Homo sapiens: one gene and its partners. The protein of the gene in region 4 interacts with the protein of the main gene of each other region in a biochemical or structural test. Each region holds a gene or a part of one and is shown on either strand. Other genes may lie near its edges.

Region 1 (4,216 bases), on a different chromosome or scaffold from region 4:
ATTATCCCCTATAAAATTTTGCCATATTACTGAGGGTAGGGGAAAGTGTTGTTCACAGATATGCCCTCCAAAGTGCCCAAAATAACACCTTCGAAAGGTTTTAAATTGTGTTTGTTCATGAAAAACCTCCTGTGATGCTATCAGACCGATATTATTCTAAACTGTGCTCTAAAAAGATAAGTTTTGGGAATTACAATATGTTAATATCTAGCAGGACTTGCACTGGCAGAAGGATCAGTCTTTGTTTTGTCTTGCTTGGCCTTGGCAGGCAGTGTTCGTGAAAAAGTTGAATCTGAATTCAATAGAACTAGGGGAGGGCGCAAGGAGGATCCAGTTGACAAAGGCACCACCACATAGGGTATTCACTCAACAATCTTAATCTGTCCCACCACTGGGGAAGGCTTTTGAGATTGTCACTTCTACTCAGCTGCTAAAGCAGAAACTACATATACACTGAGTGATGAGACAAACAGTGAGCACATGGAGGGTCTGAGAAACCAAAGCAGGCCAAAGTAAACACGTGGAGACCCCAGAGGAAAGATGGAAGAAAAACAGCACTAGGATCAACTGAGAAATGAAAATATCATCAGCGGAGAGTAAGAAGTGATAAACCTGCCAGAGGTAAGACCTCTACTGAAAATGCTGGAAGAAAAGGAAATTTCCTAAAAAGTAATCATCATCACAGAAAAATCAACAGCTTTTATGTAATGTTTTCTGAAGAGATATTAACTTTAGAATCTGAACATGGCTTTTATCAAAATAAAGTCCTGCGGGGGGAAATCCATTAAACAATACCAGTGTTGTTATATAAATAAAATAAGGGTTCCTTCTCAAAGGCTTATTTATATCTTAGACTTAAAAAATATCAAAGACTACATTATAATCTTAACATGGCAAAAACACTCTCCATATCACTTTGTTTACCTGCTAACTCAAATGCAAAAACAGATTTGAAATTAAGCAAGAGATGTGAGTTGAGTTCTTTCGCTTCTCCCTTCTTTAGGACTGTAAAGTTCAGCTTTACACAGCAGTAGATAAACAGGAACTTCACCCTTCACTGCCTTCTACTAAACTCTCCATCAGAAGGACCAGGAGACTTAATCTACAGCCCACAGAGTCCATAAATCCCACCGCTTCCTGATGAAGCACAGTGGGACTAATTATAACAAATGAGTTGCATATCATACTATCAACTTGGAATATTAATCTCTCAGTCATTTACAGCCCACTTTCAACCCCAAATGGGAACATGCAAGGAGACAAGATCCAAGAAGCCATATTAAATCCAAGTGAGGCTTTAAATCCTGGAGAAACTTTTCTGATCACTGCGGGATTTACATAAGTATTCAAGGCCAAGATGAAAGCAAAATTCTCTAGCCAAAATACCGTTGATCTGATCAGTCTGAAATTATCTGTTCTAATGAACGAAACCAGCATGTGTGCCTTATCAATGCTGCTTATCTCGCAGGGGCAGACAACCTGGAAACTGTGTTAGAATAGATCCTCAAATAAGAAACATTCAGTTAAAATGATGGGCTGCCTCTTGACACTGTGAATGTTTTGCTGCGTTCAGACATCAAAGGAAAACTGTCATGAACATCAGGTAAAGGCAGCAGAAAAGGAAGCACAGTTTGGTGTTTGTTTCATTACACAGCTCCCAAAGGGGACAATCGAATACTAAGCGGCAAAAAAGTTGTGGGAGACGGCCTCTCTCCAACCGGAATGTCCAAAGACACCTGAGTGCCGAAAATTCCCCCATACTCAACGTCTGAATTCTCCCCTCTGCCCTCTCCTCTTCGTCGGAAGAAAATCCGCTAACAATCCCATGCCTGACCAAGTGGGAAAAGCTTTCAACTTCACTCTACTTCGTCCAACCCTCGGGATAACGCACTCCCAGATCCCGACCTCCCCTTGAACCTGCCCTCTGAGATCTTCTAGTTTCTCCCGAGGGTCCCTCAGAAAACCCAGCCCGTTCCTCCCCACTGCCCCTTAACCCCTTCCCCTGCCCCAGGCCCCGTCCGCGCCCCAGCGCAGACCATCACCCGCCGCCTCCCCGACCCCCTTCCCGGAGCCCTCAACGCTGGCCTGCCCCTCGGGGCCTCCTCCTCGCAACCCCACGCGATGTTCCTCCCGCCCGCGGCCCCCTCCCCCTCCCCGCGCCTCACCACTCTCCCTCAGCAGCGCTCCCGCGAGCAAGGCCGCGCCCCCCAGGCGCTCGCCCTCGGGGGTCCCTGGCGGAGGGGCCCCTAGGCCCACCACGCCCCCGCGGATAAAGGGTGACGCAGCGGACCCCGCCCCTGCCCCGCGGGCCCGGCCGCCTCGCTCACCCACACGAAGAGGCTGTCTGAGAGCAGGTACTGGGCCACATCGCGGGCCCGGGGTCCCCCGGCGCTCGGCCGGGCGGGCGCCGGCGGCTCAGGCTGCAGCGAGGCCGTTAGCTGGTCCGGCTCGCCGGGGCCGGCCTCGGGCTGGCTGAGCGCGCGGTAGGCGCTGATGATGGTGCCCAGCAGGGCCAGGCCGCTGAGGCCCGTGTAGGTGCGGAGGCTGGGCCAGGGGAAGCGCTCGAGGAAGAGCAGCGGCATGGCGGCAGCGGCGACCTCTGGCCCCCAGGCTTCCCTGCGCTGCGGCCGGGCCTCTGCGGCGGCCTCGCGAACGGCGCCCACGGGCTCTGGCGTCGCTGCCGCTGCCGCTGCCGCCGCCGCCGCCGCGCCGGGCCGGGCCGGGCCGCTCCTGGCTGCTGGCGCCGCTCCGCCCCGCGCTGCTCCCGCTGCTGCCCCTGCCGGCGCGGAAGAGCCTGGGCGGGCTCGGGACAGGCCGCCGCCCCCAGCGGGACGCTGGCGGGACGGGCGCAGGGGCGCGGCCTTCGTCCCCCGCCCCCAGCGGTCGCGCCGCCGCCTAGCGGGCGTAGCCCCGGGCCTCAGGCCGGGGGGCGGGCACCCAGCATCATCCGCCGTCCGCACCACGGCTTGGCTGGGCCCGCAGACACAGAGGGCACCTGCTCCGGCCGCGGCGCAGGGGTCACTCGGGCTCGCAGGCGCTGGCAGGCGGGCAGGGCCTCAGGGCGCGGGGCACCCTGGCCACCAGGCCGTCGGCCACTTGCCCCCCCCCCACCCCATTAACCCTCTGAAGAGGTTACCCCCAGCACTCCTAGGGGCCGCGCAGCTTCCCTGGTGCCCGAAACCCCAGAAGAAAGAATATTAACAGTCTTTCAAGTTTCTGCTGTTTGCTAGTAGCCTCCAGCAGAAACTAAAAAATGAACCTGATTTAGCGGGAAATAAAAATGTGTTCCCTCATACCCCAGAAGTGAGAATGTCAAATGGTGCAGCTGTCTTGGAAAATAACCTGTCCTTTCCTTAAAGTCAAACAAGAGTGACCATTTGACCCAGTAATTCCACTCCTCTAAGAAAAGTGGAAACATACCTCCACACAAAACTTGTACACAAATGTTGATTACATTCTAACAATCAAAAGATGGGAACAACGCTAATGTCCGTCAAGCGATGAGTGGATAAATGTGATACATCCATAAAATGTACTATTCGGCCATAAAAATGAACTACTGATACATGCTACAATAGGAACGAACCTTAAACACGTGCTAAGTCAAAGAAGACAGCCACAAAGGTCCACGTGTTGTGTGATTCCATTGATATGAAATGTCCACAATAGGCAAGTACATATACAGACACAGAAAGTTGATTAATGATTGCTTAGGGATGGGAGGAAGAGGGGAGTAGGGGGTGATAAAGGGTGCAGGTTTCTTTTAAGAGACAGGGTCTGTGGCCCAGGCTAGAGTACAGTGGCATGCTCACTGCATCCTCCATCTCCTGGACTCAAGAAATCTTCCTGCTTCAGTCTCTCCAGTAGCTGGGATTACAGGCGTATGCCACCACACCTGGCTAATTTTTAATTTTTGGTAGAGACAGCGTCTTGCTATGTTGTCCAGACCAGTCTGTGGCTCCTGAGCTCAAGTGATCCTCCCACCTTGCCTTCACAAAGTGCAGGGATTACAGGCGTGAGTCACTGGCTGGGATAGGTTTGTTTTCAAAGTAATGAAAATGTAAAATTGAGGTGATGATTGCCCAACTCTGAATTGAAAAATCATTGTACACTTTAAATAGTTCTATCTCAATATGCGAATTGTATCTCAATAAGCTGTTACCAAAGGAAAAAAATGTTACCTTGGGAGTTTTATTCCTTTTGCATCCCCAGGGCC
Region 2 (2,970 bases), on a different chromosome or scaffold from region 4:
TGTTCAGAAATGAGAATAAACTACCTAGCCCAAGGTCTCAGGTCTGCCGCTATTATCTCCACTGAAAATGCCCCTACTGAAGGGCCTCACTTGTCATTTTCACTAAGAAGTTTGTGAAAGAGACTGGAGTAGAAAGAAATGGTCGTTATTTTTATTAGACCAATTCTGAGTGCCTCATTATTTTAATGAGACCCAGGAAACTTCTGAACCAGAACCTGAAGCTTTAAAAATCCACGTATTAGGCCGGGCATAGTGGCTCACACCTGAAATCCCAGCACTCTGGGAGTCTGCGGCGGGTGGATCACTTGAGGCCAGGGGTTCGAGACCAGCCTGGCAAACATGGTGAAACCCCGTCTCTACTAAAAGTACAAAAATTAGCCAGGTGTGTTGGCGGGCACCTGTAATCCCAGCTACTAAGGAGGCTGAGGCAGGAGAATTGCTTGAACCGGGAGGGGGAGGTTGCAGTGACCCAAGATTGTGCCACTGCACTCCAGCTTGGATGACAGTGCAAGATTCTGTCTCAGCCGGGCACGGTGGCCCACGCCTGTAATCCCAGCACTTTGGGAGGCCGAGACGCGCGGATCACCTGAGGTCGGGAGTTCGAGACCAGCCTGACTGACGTGGAGAAACCACATTTCTACTAAAAATACAAAATTAGCCGGGCGTGGTGGTGCATGCCTGTAATCCCAGTTACTCGGGAGGCTGAGGCATGAGAATCACTTGAACCCAGGAGGCGGAAGTTGCAGTGAGCCAAGATTGCGTCACTGCACTCCAGCCTGGGCAACAAGAGTGAAACTCCATCTCAAAAACAAAAACAAAAACAAAAAAAAAGACTCTCTCAAAAATAAATAAATAAAATAAACTGCTGATGGGCCAGATGCAGTGGCTCACAGCTATAATCCCACCACTTTGGGAGGCTGAAGCTGAAAGATCACTTCAACCCAGGAGTTTGAGACAAGCCAGGGTCTACAAAACCAGCCATACAAAAATTCTTTTAAGATTAGCCACGCATGGTGGTGCACATTTATGGTCCCAGCAACTCAGGAGGCTGGGGCAGGAGAACTGTTTGAGCCCAGGAGTTCAAGGCTACAGTGAGCTCTGATGTCACCACTACAACTCCAGCCTGGACACAACAGAGTGAGACCTCCGTCTCAAAAGAAAAAAAAAAACCCAATCATGTACTTAAGTAGCAAATTGCTAAAACCAATTTAAATAACTAAAAATTCCTAGGCTAAGTGATATTTTAAAGTATTTATTTCTGAGAGGATCATTCTATAACTTACATACACATTTTAAATCCCCACCTACCTTTGCACGGACATTTTCAAATGATGCAGGACTCACAAGGGAAAAGCAAATTAAGAACACATCCTACAAAAAGGAAACACAGGGAAACATTTAGACAACAACCTTAGAATGAAGCATGCACTTTGCTTTCTACATGTTGCTGGGAAGGACTTGTTGGACGCAGAGCGTGTCTACCAGTGGTGTGGTCAGACGCTTCCTGATCCACCCTTTCAGTTTGTCAGAGGGCTCCCAAACCAAACCCAGCATGTCAAGCCACCAGTTACTTATGAAAATGGGGAGCATGAAGGGAGAATGATGCTGGAAGCTCTTCAAGGATCAGGAGGATCAGACCAGACCCTCAGGAGGCTTCCTTTACGCCTAACTATCTAAAATGAAAAAATCAAGTATAAAGGTATGATTCCAATATTTCTGTAAAATCTGGTTTAGAGTACAAACAGTTTTAGATGGTCACTGGTTCCAATTAAACTGCTTCTTCAGGAGCTGCCTGTCACAGCTCCCAGCACCAAGCGGGGGCTCCAATATTTGCTACTTGAGCCCTTCCCTCCACAAGGAAGGAGGACTTAGTGTGTAAGTGGCACCTTCACAGCTGACAACCACCCTCACGCTGCCCTAGAGTCAGCACAGCCAGGGCCTCAGGAGAACTCGCTCCCGGGGCAGCTGTGGCTGACGCAGAGGCGCAAAGGGTGGGTGCAGAGGACAGAGTAGAGGGTGCTTCGGGGCACACGCCAAACATCTGCATGCTTCATCCATTCTGTATTTTGTGTCAAACCAAATTCAAATATTCACCTGTATTTAAAAATGCCCAAGAATTCTAAAATGCTAGATTTCTAAAATATTCTCCTGGAAAAAGGCAATTATGCTACTTTATGAAATGCACACAATTCCCAAGCTACACTTTCAACCCTCCAGCTGATACCTTGTACCTGAAAGGGAAAGAAACATCCCACACAACAGCTTTTTATAACTGGCATTTGAAGAATGCTGGCGCATGCACAAGCTCGTCCAAGAATCACCGCGGCACCCAGCACACCATCTCAAGCACGGTGGGGTTAGCTCAGCAGCACTGCACAGCCACGCCCAGACAGCCCCACCACACGGGACACCCAAGCGGAGAAAGAAGGCCCCGGCAACAAGGTTAGTCCTGCTCCGGCTCGGCTCACAGCCAGGTGGGCTTCCGGGAGGAGTCTCCATATCTGCATCTCCAACCAGCCAGGAGAGGGGCCCTCTCACTGTCCCCTCCTTTCACTTGGGAGGAGAAGATCACAGTTCACAAACTGCTTTAATTCAAGCCGGTGGGTAAACTATCACACTCTAATGAAGTTTATTTCATCAAGCAAAACCCCAACCTTGAGTGAATTAAATATAAAACACTCAAGGAGCTTGAGGCTTAATAAAAAATCCTAGGAAAACGAAGTGAAATGAGAGAACAGAGAAAGCTTGAAACTGAAGTGGACTGAAAGTTTTACATACGGCAATCGGCTTGTCTTTGCCCCGGGAGGTTATATCCTTACCGTACGTTTCTCCAACCTAGTAATGCATGAGAACTTGGTTTGAGTTTAGTACAGACTGAGGACAACAAAAATCAATATAACCTCTTATCGATTCTTTATTAGAATTTTGTCTTAACCCTCCGGAGAGATCCAAAAGCATACAATAGATTCT
Region 3 (2,885 bases), on a different chromosome or scaffold from region 4:
ATGATAAGCTTAGCAAGAGCAGCGACAATGAGCTTGCATTGTCAGATAACCCCCAAAGAATACAGCATAGATAAAGAAGTAAACGTATAATAAAGAAAAAAAGTTGGGCTGGGTGCTGTGGCTTATGCCTGTAATCCCAGCACTTTAGGAGGCTGAGGCAGGAGGATCACTTGAGCCCAGGCATTTGAGAGCAGCCTGGGCAACAGAGCAAGACCCCATCTCTACAAAAAACTAGCCAGGCGTGGTGGCACATGCCTGCAGTCCCAGCTACTGGACAAGCTGAGGTGGGAGGATTGCTTGAGCCCAGGAGGGAAGCTGAGGTGGGAGGATTGCTTGAGCCCAGGAGGTCAAGGCTGCAGTGAGCCAAGATTCCATCACTGCTCTCCAGCCTGGGCAACATGACACCCTGCCTCAGAAAAGTAAAAATAAAAAAATCTCATCATAAACCTAAAATAAGTTTTGGAATATAAAGGGCTTTTAGTTATCTGAAAAATGCACTTAATGTGGTAACATGTTCTCAGACAATGCTGGATAAAAGTATTTTTTAATATATGATTATTTGGATAGCTTTGTATATTGTCAGTTGTACAAATACAATTCATCTAATATATAGTATTAGTGTATGTTAGGTAGTAGTAGATAAAAGTAATATACTTTTAAGAAATGAATAGGCAAAATACTTTCTAGCCTCAACAGGAAAAAAAATGTATTAATAGTAGTGAACATGAAATGTGATTATTAGGTCAAAATGTGTAAATAATTTGACAGACTATGAATTTTTGAAGCAAATTTCAAACTTATTTAAATGAAATATAATGCTATTAAAAGTATATTTGCAAAGGCACCCTCATGATTAAAAATAAACTTTTCATAAATCACTTCTTGGGGTGCCGTCAGTTCCTGATTGAAAGGTGGTGTGGGTGCATTTGGTTAACCGGGACGCGCTTTGTGCTTTGTTTTCTAGGCTATAGAAAGCGCAATTGGTGGTAACGCTTATCAACACAGCAAAGTGAACCAGTGGACCACAAATGTAGTAGAACAAACTTTAAGCCAACTCACCAAGCTGGGAAAACCATTTAAATACATCGGTAATGGAGTCTTGTTTCTTTTATATTTGCGGGATGGTTTTTTAACACTGATCAGAGGGGCATCCAGTACCAGAAACAACAGCTAACGTGGCTCAACTCAAGGAAGGCTCCTGGTGGGAGTCGGTCGTGTGTGTAGTATACGTTAGCGTACGCTTGACCATTTGGCTGCTGGTACAATTGCAGATCGTATGTGAAGCGGGATCTTACAGGAGGTCCCATCAGATGCTTTTAGAACAAGTGAAGCATAGAGGAAGTGTGGACAGCCCCCAGCTGACAGTGGCTCAACTTAGAATTTTTCAACTTTGATGGATTTACCAGGGTATTAAGTGCATTTGCAACTTACATTTTCATATATTGTTGATTTATGATGGGTTTATGGGATGTTGTAAGTCAAGGAGCACCTATAATTTGTCAATATAGTGAGACAAGGCAATCTGTCCCTATAATTTTTATCGAGAACATCAACCACGTGGAGCTACATACATTGTACGTTTGCTAAAAGTGGACAGAATGACATTTGTGTTACCCAGTAGACTTCTCTAACAAAAATTTGTTTTAACTTAAGTGACCTGTGTAATTATGCAGAAGAATGGAGCTGGATTACACACAGCAAGTTCCTGCTTCTGGGACAGCTCTACTGACGGTATGATTTTCATTCATGTTTGTGAAGTTTTGTTGTGTGAAATATATGACTGGAAGTTTCCTATCTTTGAATGCAATGCATGTTTATCACCTTTTAAAACATTTAATAATAGACTTGCCAAGGTTCTTTGTGTAGCATAGAGATGGGTACTTGAATGTTGGCCTTATTGTGAGTAAAACGTCGTCCCCCAGCTTTCCCTGCCGTAAATGCTGCTCTCTTCCCTCCCGCAGGGAGCTGCACTGTGCGATGGGAGAATAAGACCATGTACTGCATCGTCAGTGCCTTCGGACTGTCTATTTGACCTGCAGTCCAGCCTATGGCCTTTCTCCTTTTGTCTCTAGTTCATCCTCTAACCACCAGCCATGAATTCAGTGAACTCTTTTCTCATTCTCTTTGTTTTGTGGCACTTTCACAATGTAGAGGAAAAAACCAAATGACCGCACTGTGATGTGAATGGCACCGAAGTCAGATGAGTATCCCTGTAGGTCACCTGCAGCCTGCGTTGCCACTTGTCTTAACTCTGAATATTTCATTTCAAAGGTGCTAAAATCTGAAATCTGCTAGTGTGAAACTTGCTCTACTCTCTGAAATGATTCAAATACACTAATTTTCCATACTTTATACTTTTGTTAGAATAAATTATTCAAATCTAAAGTCTGTTGTGTTCTTCATAGTCTGCATAGTATCATAAACGATTTCTTCATAGTGAGTGGCTACAGAATCTATACAACCAGACCAGGCGCAGTGGCTCACACCTGTAATCCCACCACTTTGGGAGGCTGAGGCAGGCGGATCATGAGGTCAGGAGATCAAGACCATCCTGTCTAACACGGTGAAACCCCGTCTCTACTAAAAATACCAAAAATTAGCCAGGTGTGGTGGCGGGCGCCTGTAGTCCCAGCTACTCGGGAGGCTGAGGCAGGAGAGTGGCATGAACCCAGGAGGCAGAGGTTGTAGTGAGCCAAGATCGTGAGCCAAGTTCCCGCCACTGCACTCCAGCCTGGGTGACAAGAGCAAGAGTCCGCCTCAAAAAAAAAAAAAAAAAAAAAAAAAAAAAATATATATATATATATATACAACCAAAAAAAAAAAAGTTCTGCTGTGGTCCTCTCCATGATGTACTCATTTTACCCGTGGGACCAGGATCCTGACGG
Region 4 (3,370 bases):
CCCAGGTTCAAGCGATTCTCCTGCCTCAGCCTACTAAGTAGCTGGGACTATAGGTGCGCACCACCACGCCTAGCTAATTTTTGTATTTTTTCAGTAGAGACAGGGTTTTGCTATGCTGGCCAGGCTGGTCTCAAACTCCTGACCTCAGATGATCCAGCCACCTCAGCTTCCCAAAGTGCTGGGGTTCCAGGTGTTAGCCACCATGCCTGGCCATAGACTTGTTTCTGTTCCCTTCTCACTGTGGCTGTACCAAGGTGTTGCTTATCCCAGAAGTCGTGATGCAGGTCAGCACTTTCTCCATGGGAAGTTTTAGCAGTGTTTCTTTTTAGAATGTATTTGGGAACTTTAATTCATAATTTAGCTTTTTTTTCTTCTTCTTATAAATAGGCTGTACCAGTGCAGGTCCTCACTTTAATCCTCTATCCAGAAAACACGGTGGGCCAAAGGATGAAGAGAGGTAACAAGATGCTTAACTCTTGTAATAATGGCGATAGCTTTCTGGAGTTCATATGGTATACTACTTGTAAATATGTGCTAAGATAATTCCGTGTTTCCCCCACCTTTGCTTTTGAACTTGCTGACTCATCTAAACCCCTGCTCCCAAATGCTGGAATGCTTTTACTTCCTGGGCTTAAAGGAATTGACAAATGGGGACACTTAAAACGATTTGGTTTTGTAGCATTTATTGAATATAGAACTAATACAAGTGCCAAAGGGGAACTAATACAGGAAATGTCATGAACAGTACTGTCAACCACTAGCAAAATCAATCATCATTGTGAAACATAGGAAGCTTCTGTAGATAAAAAAAAAAATTGATACTGAAAACTAGTCGAGACTCCATTTATATGTGTATGTTTTCTGAAAGCCTTTCAGAAAAATATTAAATTTAAGGACAAGATTTTTATATCAGAGGCCTTGGGACATAGCTTTGTTAGCTATGCCAGTAATTAACAGGCATAACTCAGTAACTGAGAGTTTACCCTTTGGTACTTCTGAAATCAGGTGCAGCCCCATCTTTCTTCCCAGAGCATTAGTGTGTAGACGTGAAGCCTTGTTTGAAGAGCTGTATTTAGAATGCCTAGCTACTTGTTTGCAAATTTGTGTCTACTCAGTCAAGTTTTAATTTAGCTCATGAACTACCTTGATGTTTAGTGGCATCAGCCCTAATCCATCTGATGCTTTTTCATTATTAGGCATGTTGGAGACTTGGGCAATGTGACTGCTGACAAAGATGGTGTGGCCGATGTGTCTATTGAAGATTCTGTGATCTCACTCTCAGGAGACCATTGCATCATTGGCCGCACACTGGTGGTAAGTTTTCATAAAAGGATATGCATAAAACTTCTTCTAACATACAGTCATGTATCTTTTCACTTTGATTGTTAGTCGCGGTTTCTAAAGATCCAGATAAACTGTACTTGCAGTTCAAATTAGGAAAAGCAATTTTATTGGACAATTACGGTGAAAATGAATTATTTTATCTAGGTCAGTTAAGAACACTGTTCTGCTAAGATGCAGTAAAAAGCAGGTTACATTTGACCATATTAGATCTGAGTTTGGAAAACAGAAGTAGTCTTTAGTTTTAAAATGGCCAGATTTTCTTGCCAGGATTGGGTTTCTCACTTGTTAAACAGAACATTTTGTTAAGTTTAAAACCTGGGATGGACTTAAGTATTCATGTTCATTCATGTTCATTCAGGACTGCAGGTTATCATGACTTGTTTAACTTGTGGGAAGCTGTTGTCCCAAGTTATCCTGGGGAACTGCATCTGGTTCTTGCAAAACACCAAGTAGACAGGCTCTCTTTTACCTCCCCTTGAGGGCATTAACATTCAGTAGTCACTTCCATTCAGTTAACCCTTTATTTTTATGGTTTTTCTTGAGCCATAGTTGTAAAGCAGAAAAATCATTTATAAAGGTTTGTTGAACAAAATTCAAAATACTGTTGCTTAAAGTATTAAGATTTTTTAGGATTATACCTTACTTATAGGCCCGTCATTCATTTGGCATGAAATTTTGAGTTTTATTCACTTTCACTTTCCTTTTTTTCCAAAGCAATTAAAAAAACTGCCAAAGTAAGAGTGACTGCGGAACTAAGGTTACTGTAACTTACCATGGAGGATTAAGGGTAGCGTGTGGTGGTCTACAACATAGTTATTTGGGTTTTAGTATTTCATTTAGACAGCAACACTTACCTAATGTTTAAAGGTAATGTCTTTGCAACACCAAGAAAAAGCTTTGAGTAGTAGTTTCTACTTTTAAACTACTAAATATTAGTATATCTCTCTACTAGGATTAATGTTATTTTTCTAATATTATGAGGTTCTTAAACATCTTTTGGGTATTGTTGGGAGGAGGTAGTGATTACTTGACAGCCCAAAGTTATCTTCTTAAAATTTTTTACAGGTCCATGAAAAAGCAGATGACTTGGGCAAAGGTGGAAATGAAGAAAGTACAAAGACAGGAAACGCTGGAAGTCGTTTGGCTTGTGGTGTAATTGGGATCGCCCAATAAACATTCCCTTGGATGTAGTCTGAGGCCCCTTAACTCATCTGTTATCCTGCTAGCTGTAGAAATGTATCCTGATAAACATTAAACACTGTAATCTTAAAAGTGTAATTGTGTGACTTTTTCAGAGTTGCTTTAAAGTACCTGTAGTGAGAAACTGATTTATGATCACTTGGAAGATTTGTATAGTTTTATAAAACTCAGTTAAAATGTCTGTTTCAATGACCTGTATTTTGCCAGACTTAAATCACAGATGGGTATTAAACTTGTCAGAATTTCTTTGTCATTCAAGCCTGTGAATAAAAACCCTGTATGGCACTTATTATGAGGCTATTAAAAGAATCCAAATTCAAACTAAATTAGCTCTGATACTTATTTATATAAACAGCTTCAGTGGAACAGATTTAGTAATACTAACAGTGATAGCATTTTATTTTGAAAGTGTTTTGAGACCATCAAAATGCATACTTTAAAACAGCAGGTCTTTTAGCTAAAACTAACACAACTCTGCTTAGACAAATAGGCTGTCCTTTGAAAGCTTTAGGGAAATGTTCCTGCTTAGTCATTTTAGCATTTTGATTCATAAAGTACCTCCTCATTTTAAAAAGACATTATGATGTAAGAGAGCCATTTGATAACTTTTTAGTGAGCTTTGAAAGGCAAGTTACAGCCTCAGCTAGCTAGTAAGATTATCTACCTGCCAGAATGGCACAAATTCTACATTCAAGGGTAGACGCTGGCACAACCTACTTACAGATTAGCCCTTTAAAGCAATCTGTAGCATTAGAAGATGGAACCAAGGAAATGTTTGACTGTGGGTTCTGGCTGTTGAGAAATAATTTACACACCGAATTAGTGA
Region 5 (3,500 bases), on a different chromosome or scaffold from region 4:
CCTGTTTGTGATAAAAATACATTTCTGAAAAGTATACTTTACGTCAGATTTGGGTTTCTATTGACTAAAATGTGTTCATCGGGAATGGGAATAACCCAGAACATAACAAGCAAAAAATTATGACAAATATATAGTATACCTTTAAGAAACATGTTTATATTGATATAATTTTTTGATTAAATATTATACACACTAAGGGTACAAAGCACATTTTCCTTTTATGATTTGATACAGTAGTTTATGTGTCAGTCAGTACTTCCACATTTTTGCTGAACTGGATACAGTAGGCAGCTTACCAAATATTCTATGGTAGAAAACTTGGGACTTCCTGGTTTGCTTAAATCAAATATATTGTACTCTCTTAAAACGGTTGGCATTTATAAATAGATGGATACATGGTTTAAATGTGTCTGTTTACATACCTAGTTGAGAGAACCTAAAGAATTTTCTGCGTCTCCAGCATTTATATTCAGTTCTGTTTAATACATTATCGAAATTGACATTTATAAGTATGACAGTTTTGTGTATATGGCCTTTTCATAGCTTAATATTGGCTGTAACAGAGAATTGTGAAATTGTAAGAAGTAGTTTTCTTTGTAGGTGTAAAATTGAATTTTTAAGAATATTCTTGACAGTTTTATGTATATGGCCTTTTCATAGCTTAATATTGGCTATAACAGAGAATTGTGAAATTGTTAAGAAGTAGGTGTAAAATTGAATTTTTAAGAATATTCTTGAATGTTTTTTTCTTGGAAAAATTAAAAAGCTATGCAGCCCAATAACTTGTGTTTTGTTTGCATAGCATATTATAAGAAGTTCTTGTGATTAATGTTTTCTACAGGAATTTGTCAATCTTTATTCTGACTACATTCTCAATAAATCAGTAGAAAAACAGTTCAAGGCTTTTCGGAGAGGTTTTCATATGGTGACCAATGAATCTCCCTTAAAGTACTTATTCAGACCAGAAGAAATTGAATTGCTTATATGTGGAAGCCGGGTAAGAAAGCAGGTGTCTGCAAAAAGTCATGTATCGATTTATTGTTTGTAATGATACAGTAGTATAGCAGATAACTAAGACATATTTTCTTGAATTTGCAGAATCTAGATTTCCAAGCACTAGAAGAAACTACAGAATATGACGGTGGCTATACCAGGGACTCTGTTCTGATTAGGTGAGGTACTTAGTTCTTCAGAGGAAGATTTGATTCACCAAAGGGGTGTGTGATTTTGCTTCAGACCTTTATCTCTAGGTACTAATTCCCAAATAAGCAAACTCACAAATTGTCATCTATATACTTAGATTTGTATTTGTAATATAATCACCATTTTTCAGAGCTAATCTTGTGATTTATTTCATGAATGAAGTGTTGTTATATATAAGTCTCATGTAATCTCCTGCATTTGGCGTATGGATTATCTAGTATTCCTCACTGGTTAGAGTATGCTTACTGCTGGTTAGAAGATAATTAAAATAAGGCTACCATGTCTGCAATTTTTCCTTTCTTTTGAACTCTGCATTTGTGAACTGTTACATGGCTTCCCAGGATCAAGCACTTTTTGAGTGAAATGGTAGTCTTTTATTTAATTCTTAAGATAATATGTCCAGATACATACTAGTATTTCCATTTTACACCCTAAAAAACTAAGCCCTGAATTCTCACAGAAAGATGTAGAGGTTCCCAGTTCTATCTGCTTTTAAGCAAATGCCCTTACTACTCTACTGTCTACTTCTGTGTACTACATCATCCAATTCTGAAAGACATAGGCTTCCCCATCCCCTGCTAAGACTGGTTCAAGTGGCAGCTACTGATGGATTGCAGTGAGAAGGCATGCAAACACGTACCTTCCTGGAAGTTGTCTCCAAAGGCTATTGCTCTAAGACTCAAGTATATAAACACTAGAATGAATATCAACTCTATCTAGCAATAAATGTTATTTTTATATTACAGTTGACCCTTGAACAACACAGCTGTGAACTTCATGGGCCCTCTGACATGCAGATTTTTTTTCTCAACTAAGAGCAGATTCAGTATTGGTGGGACTCAGAACCTGCATATACAGAGGGCTGACTTTCATACATGCCAGTTTCACAGGGCCAACTGCAGAACTTGAGCGTGCATGGATTTTGGTATACACACGTGGTCCTGGAACCAATCCCTGTCACATATACCAAGGGATGGCTGTATGTTACTTTATATTCATTTGTTCTGTTATTTTATAAGGTTGTTCGTCGTGGTATGTGGGAATTCACCAGTATTTCTTCTTTCTGGTGCACCGTTGGTCATTTCTGGCAGCAGTGGTGAATGTATTTACTCTTAGCAACCTCTGTGCTGCTACCTGTTCTGAGTTTCAAAGGTGATTCATTAAAGGGTTGGGATAACATGGTGATAGGAAAAACCCCCCTCATCAGTCACAAGGAGTATAACAGCAATATCTCTGTAATATGATTGATCATAGATATAATTTCTAGTAGGAAAAAAAGTCATATCTTGATGCATCTCTGAGAATAGTTGAACATATCTTGTGCTATTCTTTATAGAGAAATTATCTTTGAAATTAAAGTCTTAATTTTACTTCTAGCTTTTTATAACAACATAATCCCTACTTGGTATGTATCTTAAGATCATTTTTAAATGTATGATTTGAAGGGCAAACTAGTGTTATGTGAAAAATGACAGATAAAGTAGCTTCCAACTCATCCTCAAGAGTTGATGATATTCTAAACCTTTTCTAACTAAATTCAGCTTCTTAATTTTCTCAATATAAATATGATGAAAATATTAATTCATTAAATAGTCTACAAGTATTCGGTAGTTGAAGACTTAAAGTAGTGCTTGTAATAACAGAAGAGAAAAAAGACATTACAGGCGTATCTCACTTTATTGCACTTTGCAGATACTGAGTTTTTTTGGTGGCAACCCTGCATCAAGCAGGTCTACCAGCACCATTTTTCCAACAAAATGTGCTCACTTCATTAGCATTTTTAGCAATGATTTTAAATTAAGATAATGTACTTATTTTTAGACAATGCTGTTACACACTTGACTACAGTATAATGTAAACGTAACTTTTATAAGCACTGGGAAACAAAAAAATTTGTGTGACTCACTTTACTGCCATAATCACTTTATTTGCCATGGTCTGAAACTGAACCGGCAGTATCTCTGGGGTATGCCTGTATAGATATTTTGGTTGGTATTTATTTATTGTATGCAGAATTCATAAAAATAAAAACTGCGAGGCTGTTTAATACATTTCAACTAAAAGTTGCCAGCATCATTAATATGTAAACCACTAGAAATAAGATTTTGTTAATTTTTTGTTTGTTTGTTTAAACAGTCTTGCTCTGTCACTGAGGCTGGAGTGCAGTGGCGCAGTCTCAGTTCACTGCAACCTCCGCTTCCTGGGTTCAAGTGATTCTCCTGCCTCAGCCTCCTGAGTAGCTGGGGTTACAGGTGCACACCACTACACCTGGCTAATGTTTGTATTTTTAGTAGAGA
Region 6 (3,500 bases), on a different chromosome or scaffold from region 4:
ACAGCAAGACAATTTCTGTGATGGGATTTGAACCAGGTGGTCTGATCGTAAAGTACTGTAATCCCACTGGCAAGAGGGACAGGTGTGATGATTCATGCATATGCCAGGAGAGAAAGCACCTACAACATAGTTCCAAAAGGCCAGAACTGCTGCAGTGGTTTCTCCTCTTTTTATTTCCACTCAAGCTATTGAATGATAGTGAGGCTCAAATAGAGGCTTAATGCATAGGAGCCACAGACCGAATATTTATACAGTTCCCCACCTTTTAAAAACAAATACACTTCATTCTCTTTTGCAAGGTAATATAAGTAATGTTAAAGCCGTCTTACCAAGATTGTCCTTTGTAAATTAGAGTTAACACTACTGAACATCAATTTACCAACTATTGTAGCAATAGTAGGAAAGACAAGGGCTCCACACAAGATTCGAGTAGCAGAGACATGATCTGCTAAAGGATTGGCCTCAGCTGGAATTCGAGGAACAGGACAACCTATCCCTAGAGGAAAAAAATGCAGTGCGTTAGTGCTAATAAATCAGAAGAGTTAGACTACCTTCAAACATGGCTAAAAAAGCATGTTATTGTTCTTCAAGATCAATTTGGTATGCACTTTACAACCACAGTTCAGTGCCTTACCTGGAAATATACTATTTAAAATTTGTAGTTTATTCGAGTATTTGCGCCACAGTCTAAGCACATAGTCCTCCCAGCGAATCATCTTGCCTAATATCAGCATGACAGGAATAGTAGGAAGTCCAATTAAAAGGAATAAAGGATCAGCTCTCTCCATAACATCCAGACCTTCTTTATGACCTACAACCTGTGAAACAGATAGCATATATTAGAATTACTTCTTTTTCAAATGAGGTGTTGCATGTTAAGCTCTATTTTTTTAATAGAAAATGCTTAATTTCAAAAGAATACACAGAAATAAAAAGTTTAAAAAATAAGCTGGAAAGCTATCAGTCCTGATTTATTTATAAGAAATGTCTCATTCAAGGGAAAAACAAAGTTCCCAAGCCATTTCATACCACACAGGAATAAAAATTAAAATGGCTGACCCAGACTGATTACATTACAATAGAGGGGCGGGGACCTCTGATTGTTGCTTCTATTCCTTTATTTGATTTGGTTAGACTGGGCTACGGAACTGGGATATAATTCTAAGTCCTATTTGTCTTCCAGCAAAACAACTGTTTTCCTGATCTTCCTTCTAGGAGATTAAGCATAGCCAGCCAAGAGGTAGGACCGGCCTTCAAGAGATGGCCTGAAAGCTCATTTCTCTTTGGCTCTTTCTCCTTACTTAGTGGTGTGTAAGATAGGGTGTGATGTCTCTGGCTGGCTAAGTGTCTACCCTACAGACCTAACCCTCCTTAAGTGCACTTCCAAGGTCTAGAATTGAGGGACTGTAGTAGGAGGTCCAGTTTTGGTTACAGATCCCAGGCATTTTTCCCAATTCAGGAACTCTAGGGTACCCTATCTATGGGGGTAATGAAGCTAATACAATCTTTTCCTTACCCTATCCTAGTCTTGGGGCTATTTCTAAATTGGTGTAGATCCCAGAAGGCGAGAAATACAAAATTGGCATTTGTGAACTTCTACCTTTTCCCTCTCTCCAAAATCCTTTTCACTTCCACATCAATCTTGGCCTTAAATTTACCTCTTTTTGTTGTTGTTTTTGAGATGGAGTCTCGCTGTGTTGCCCAGGCTGGAGTGCAGTGGTGTGATCTTGGCTCACTGCAACCTCCGGCTCCTGGATTCAAGCGATTCTTCTGCCTTAGCCTCCCGAGTAGCTGGGATTACAGGGGCATGCCACCATGCCCAGCTAATTTGTGTATTTTTAGTAGAGACGAGGTTTCATCATGTTGGCCAGGTTGGTCTCGAACTCCTGACCTCAGGTGATCAGCCTGCCTCGGCCTCTCAAAGTGCTGGGATTACAGGCGCGAGCCACCGTGCCTGGCCAAAAATTTTTTTTTTTTTTTTGAGACGGAATTTTTTGCTCTTGTTGCCCAGGCTGGAGTGCAATGGCACGATCTTGGCTCACTGCAACCTCTGCCTCCCAGGTTCAAGCAATTCTCCTGCCTCAGCCTTTCGAGTAGCTGGGATTACAGGTGTGCACCTCCACGCCCAGCTAATTTTTGTATTTTTAGTAGAGACGGGGTTTCTCCACATTGGTCAGGCTGATCTCGAACTCCTGACCTCAGGTGATCCACCCGCCTCGGCCTCCGACAGTGCTGGGATTACAGGCGTGAGCCACTGCGCCCGGCCCCAGAAATGTTTTATGAAAGTGTGTGGAGAGGACCAAATTTGAGCTATGGATATAGTCCAGATTTCCACTTGGTTAATTTATCTAATTAAGATGTAATATTAAAGGGCAGGAGGCTAGCCTCTTCCTAATGGTCAATAATGTCATCGAATTTGATATTCTTCTGTGTCTCCAGGTAGAACTTAACAACTTCCTATCTTGCATGTGGAAGGTGATCCTTTTGAGTTGCCCTAAAGTGAAATGGTCTGGTTTATGATATTTCATAAACCCCAATTCCATAATGGTAGCAAAAGTTAGCTGGCCATGACTGTTTTACCTATAATGATTTCCCAGGAAATTTCTTTATCTATCTATCTATCTATCTATCTATATATCTATCATCTATCTATCTATCTATCTATCTATCTATCTATCTATCTATCTATCTATCTATCTATCTGAGACGGAGTTTCAGTCTTGGCATGATCTTGGCTCACTGCAACCTCCACCTCCTGAGTTCAAGCTATTCTTCTGCCTCAACCTCCTGAGTAGATGGGATTACAGGCACATGGCACAACACCTGGCTACTTTTTTGTATTTTTAGTAGAAATGGGGTTTCACCACGTTAGCCAGGTTGGTCTCGAATTCCTGACCTCAGGTGATCCGCCTGCCTTGGCCCCCCAAAGTGCTGGGATTATAGGCGTGACCCACCACGCCCGGCCAGGAAATTCCTTTAAAGAAAAAAAAAGACAGGGTCTTGCTACGTTTCCCAGGTTGGCTTTGTACTCCTGGGCTCAAGCAATCTTCCCACCTCACCCTCCTGAGTAGCTGGAACTACAGATGAGTGCCACCACGTCTGGCTAAGAAATTCTATTTTTATATCATTAAAAATTTCAATATAATGATCACTCTAACATTATAACTAAATATGATTAAATATTCTCAAAGTGTTAGCAAATAAATTCAGAATATTTGAAAAAATCCTTTGTCGGGTTATGTGTCCTTTTTTTGGGTTTAGAAATATAAAGAAGAGTGAATATTCAGGTATAGACTAGAGCGAACAAGAGGAAGTTTGTTTCTCATGGGTAGCAGTAAAAACCTTATAAGGTGTTTAAGAATAAGGAAACAAAAAGGAAGTAGGGGTTGGGCACTGTGACTCACAATTGTAATCCTAGCACTTTGGGAGGCTGAGGCAGGCGGATCACCTGAGGTCAGGAGTTTGAGACCAGCCTGACCAACATGGTGGAACCCCGTTTC
Region 7 (3,500 bases), on a different chromosome or scaffold from region 4:
CAAAACCCCTTTTTCCAAATAACATTTGCAGATTCTGGGGATTAGGACATGAACATATCTTTTGTGGGGTTACCATGCAACACACTAAAATATGGTTCTGGAAATTTTTGCTAAGGACATCAGTAAGGTATGCTAAATTATGCAAAAATCTAAAGGATATTTAACGTTTGTGCATAATTTTAAAAATGGGCCAGGTGCAGTGGCTCACGCCTGTAATCCCAGCACTTTGGAAGGCTGACGTGGGCGGATCACTTGAGTCCAGGAGTTCGAAATCAGCCTGGCCAACATGGCAAAACCTCGCCGCTTGTAAAAAAAAAAAAAAAAAAAAAAAATGATTAGCTGGGTGTGGTGGCAGGTGCCTGTAATCCCAGCTACTGGCAGGCTGAGGAATGAGAATCGTTTCAGCCTGGGAGGCGGAGGGTGCAGTAAGCCAAGATTGCGTCACTGCACTCCAGCCTGGGTGACAGAGTGAAACTCTGTCTCCAAAAAAAAGTTTTTATTTATTTATTTATTTTTATTTTTGAGACACAGATTTGCTTGTCACCCTGCCTGGAGTGCAATGTCGCAATCTCGGCTCACTATAACCTCCACCTCTCAGGTTGGAGCAATTCTCCTGCCTCAGCCTCCCAAGTAGCTGGAACTGCAGGTGCCCACCACCATACCTAGGTAAATTTTTTTTTGTATTTTTAGTAGAGACAGGGTTTCACCATGTTGGCCAGGCTGGTCTCGAACTCCTAACCTCAGGTGATTTGCCCACCTTGGCCTCCCAAAGTGCTGGAATTACAAGCATGAGTCACCATGCCTGACAAAAGTTGGTTTTATATTAAAGGGTATGGCTATAAGGAGAAATCTATTTGATATGGCTATGTATACAACCAGAAGTCACAACTGCCTACCAGGTAACCACTGCCACCCTTGCTTTGGATAAAAGAATTACAGTCATTGTACTATATACATCATATACCCTAAGATAACAGGCTTTTCTAAATGGTTACTTTATTTTCCCCACTTACGCACTCACACTACTTACCAGTTCCCACCCCCACTTACGCACTCACATTACTTACCAGTTCCCACCTCCACTTTCCAAATGACCTTATTTCATGATTTTATTTAAGGATGCCTATATAAAAAGTCCCATTTATTCCATACAAAAACTGAAAAACAGATTTGTTCAGGCAATATTAAATAGATGAGAGGTTTAAAATCTGGTGCTCAAACCAACCTAGTCGCCTCTCCTGATTCTATTTAAGAGCATCTTGTATTGATTTATTGTTACTGATTCCAATGTGGGAGGTAACAGTACATTCTATATGCACCAGTCTCATGGGAACTTCTATCCTGTTTTTTACACTGAGCCTTGCTCTGACTAGTTACTAATAATTAGAGGATCTCTTTTATAACAGTCTTGTCTGAGTAGCCCAGAGTGTTTCAAAGGCATAATTAACTTATACTAATCCAATGAAAAAGATGATGAATATCCTTCCTTATTTTATTTTAGAGATGGTGTCTTGCTCTGTTGCTCAGGCTGGAGTACAGTGGCACAATCTCAGCTCACTGCAACCTCTACCTCCCAAGTTCAAGCAATTCTCCTGCCTCAGCCTCCCTAGTAGCTGGCATGACAGGTGCCTGCCACCAAGCCCAGCAAATTTTTGTATTTTTTAGTAGAGGCAGGGTTTCACCATGTTGGTCAGGCTAGTCTTGCCCGACCTCAAATGATCTGCCTGCCTCAGCTCCCCATACTGCTGGGATTACAGGATTATACATTGGGAAAGACAGTAACGCGCAAAGTCATTTTGTGCGGAGATGTAAAACTGAGAGAAGACAGGTAGCCTGACTTTCAATCCAACTCAATAACTCCAATTCGAAGGTGTATGCAATTCTGTATTTGGCCTCAAAAGACACATCAATCAGTTAGAAAAAGACTACAAAAAGACAAGTTCTGCAGAAAGAAACATGTCATACAAAACGCCCCTAGAGCTACGCTGTCCAATATGAATAAAAGTACGTAAAGTCACTCATGATAATCTTTCAGATCTATTGGCTTAAATGCATTATGAAAACTAATTTTGCCTGTTTCCTTTTACTTCTTTAATGTGGCACTAGAAAATTTTAAATTATATTTGTGGCTCACATTGTATTTCTATTGGACAACACTGCTGAAGAGATAGTTATAAAATAAATACCTTAGATTGTAGATACTTTAATTCTATTAGCAAATACTTATTCGACATCTTTTATTGTCAGGCTTATGCTAAGTGCTAAGACTTAAAGAGTGAACAAAGAAAATGGTCCCTGCCATCACAGAGCTTGCATTAGCTCCTATACTTCTGCACATTTCACATAGTCTCATTTGTGATTATGCATTAGAATAACTTAATTTAGGATACCTTACCATTTTCAGGGGCAAATACCAATACGTGACTTAGAAATCACAAAATATAAATCAACAGATTCATGATAATGAGCTTATTTTTGTGATACAATATTTATATTAATACGTTATATAATATTTATCTGGAAACCTAACATCATCACATTCCCAAAAGCTTCTCCTGGTTTCTTGCTCCTTCCCTCTAACAACTCTGGCTCCCTCCTTATGGCTCACTTCTACCAAAGTCTCTTCAATTGGCAACCTGCCTGCTATTCAAATCATAAGGACTATTTTTATCCTCAGGGGTCTCCCCAACAGGACAGAAGTTAAAAATGCTAAGTATACATAATTTCATGGGGCCAACTCCAGTTTTTTGAACCAAAGACTCAGTTTCGAAGTTTCTTTTGGGCGTAAACAAGCTAAGGTGATTTCTGAGCAGGATTTTTGCTTCAGAATTCAATGCACAAACTTATTTCAGAGTTAAAACAACTGAACACTTCTGTCATATTGAGAGTTTCATGTAACAAAACCTTTCCTAATAGGACTTCTAAAACAAATTAACAGTAATTCTTTAGTAAATGATTTATAAAATAAAATACTAGATAACATCAATAGGATAAGACTACATAATGGTTTTAAGGCTAATGGCATAGCTTTTTAAAAAAGTTATCAATAAAAATAATTCTTCAGGTGTTAATGACAGTGATAAAGAGAGCAATGCAAGCAAAACCTCCTTTATCAAGAAGTGTTACTTTTTCCACTTTGATATAGAAAGTATCACTGACATATGATAACTTTTGAGAAACAAATGAAGTACACAAGTTTTAAACACCCAAAGTGATTTCACTGCCTGTTTGGTTGAAGCCTACCACCATCTGAAATACAGGTATGTTCAGCAAGGAAATATTATCCCTTAGTCTTTAGCTGTGCAGGTACGGTTAAGTAAATGAGTTGTTTCAATGTTAGACATCTTCTATCTACTAACAGAGAACTGGCATGGCTTAAAAAAAGAAAATTCATAATTACTCCTAGTTGGAGAAAAAAAATTCCTAAGTAAAGAAAAATTTAGCTATTCTCCGTAAGTAGTAAGATGAATATTTTGATAAATAGCTTTTAAGCTGAAGTA

The links.
Region 1: of the proteins of SOD1 (region 4) and AMFR, one has a biochemical effect on the other in vitro, tested with the Homo sapiens proteins (one study listed by BioGRID).
Region 2: the proteins of SOD1 (region 4) and RAC1 form a complex in vitro, tested with the Homo sapiens proteins (one study listed by IntAct).
Region 3: the proteins of SOD1 (region 4) and DYNLT1 form a complex in vitro, tested with the Homo sapiens proteins (one study listed by BioGRID).
Region 5: the proteins of SOD1 (region 4) and UBE3A form a complex in vitro, tested with the Homo sapiens proteins (one study listed by BioGRID).
Region 6: of the proteins of SOD1 (region 4) and MARCHF5, one has a biochemical effect on the other in vitro, tested with the Homo sapiens proteins (one study listed by BioGRID).
Region 7: of the proteins of SOD1 (region 4) and RNF19A, one has a biochemical effect on the other in vitro, tested with the Homo sapiens proteins (one study listed by BioGRID).

Annotation. Positions count from the first base shown.
Region 1 is NC_000016.10:56,422,746-56,426,961, forward strand, and holds the start of AMFR (E3 ubiquitin-protein ligase AMFR), read right to left. Parts: upstream 2,801-4,216; 5' UTR 2,583-2,800; coding exon 2,328-2,582; intron 2,245-2,327; exon of another isoform or gene 2,166-2,244; intron 1,990-2,165; exon of another isoform or gene 925-1,989; intron 1-924. UniProt on the Homo sapiens protein: E3 ubiquitin-protein ligase that mediates the polyubiquitination of lysine and cysteine residues on target proteins, such as CD3D, CYP3A4, CFTR, INSIG1, SOAT2/ACAT2 and APOB for proteasomal degradation.
Region 2 is NC_000007.14:6,398,527-6,401,496, reverse strand, and holds part of RAC1 (ras-related C3 botulinum toxin substrate 1), read right to left. Parts: intron 2,836-2,970; coding exon of another isoform or gene 2,779-2,835; intron 1,372-2,778; coding exon 1,309-1,371; intron 1-1,308. UniProt on the Homo sapiens protein: Plasma membrane-associated small GTPase which cycles between active GTP-bound and inactive GDP-bound states.
Region 3 is NC_000006.12:158,635,974-158,638,858, reverse strand, and holds the end of DYNLT1 (dynein light chain Tctex-type 1), read left to right. Parts: intron 1-964; coding exon 965-1,088; intron 1,089-1,653; coding exon 1,654-1,731; intron 1,732-1,961; coding exon 1,962-2,032; 3' UTR 2,033-2,385; downstream 2,386-2,885. UniProt on the Homo sapiens protein: Acts as one of several non-catalytic accessory components of the cytoplasmic dynein 1 complex that are thought to be involved in linking dynein to cargos and to adapter proteins that regulate dynein function.
Region 4 is NC_000021.9:31,666,062-31,669,431, forward strand, and holds the end of SOD1 (superoxide dismutase [Cu-Zn]), read left to right. Parts: intron 1-387; coding exon 388-457; intron 458-1,196; coding exon 1,197-1,314; intron 1,315-2,409; coding exon 2,410-2,517; 3' UTR 2,518-2,870; downstream 2,871-3,370. UniProt on the Homo sapiens protein: Destroys radicals which are normally produced within the cells and which are toxic to biological systems.
Region 5 is NC_000015.10:25,352,025-25,355,524, reverse strand, and holds part of UBE3A (ubiquitin-protein ligase E3A), read left to right. Parts: intron 1-841; coding exon 842-997; intron 998-1,098; coding exon 1,099-1,172; intron 1,173-3,500. UniProt on the Homo sapiens protein: E3 ubiquitin-protein ligase which accepts ubiquitin from an E2 ubiquitin-conjugating enzyme in the form of a thioester and transfers it to its substrates.
Region 6 is NC_000010.11:92,346,667-92,350,166, reverse strand, and holds part of MARCHF5 (E3 ubiquitin-protein ligase MARCHF5), read right to left. Parts: intron 819-3,500; coding exon 635-818; intron 497-634; coding exon 330-496; intron 1-329. UniProt on the Homo sapiens protein: Mitochondrial E3 ubiquitin-protein ligase that plays a crucial role in the control of mitochondrial morphology by acting as a positive regulator of mitochondrial fission and as an important regulator of immune response.
Region 7 is NC_000008.11:100,303,454-100,306,953, forward strand, and holds part of RNF19A (E3 ubiquitin-protein ligase RNF19A), read right to left. Parts: intron 1-3,500. UniProt on the Homo sapiens protein: E3 ubiquitin-protein ligase which accepts ubiquitin from E2 ubiquitin-conjugating enzymes UBE2L3 and UBE2L6 in the form of a thioester and then directly transfers the ubiquitin to targeted substrates, such as SNCAIP or CASR.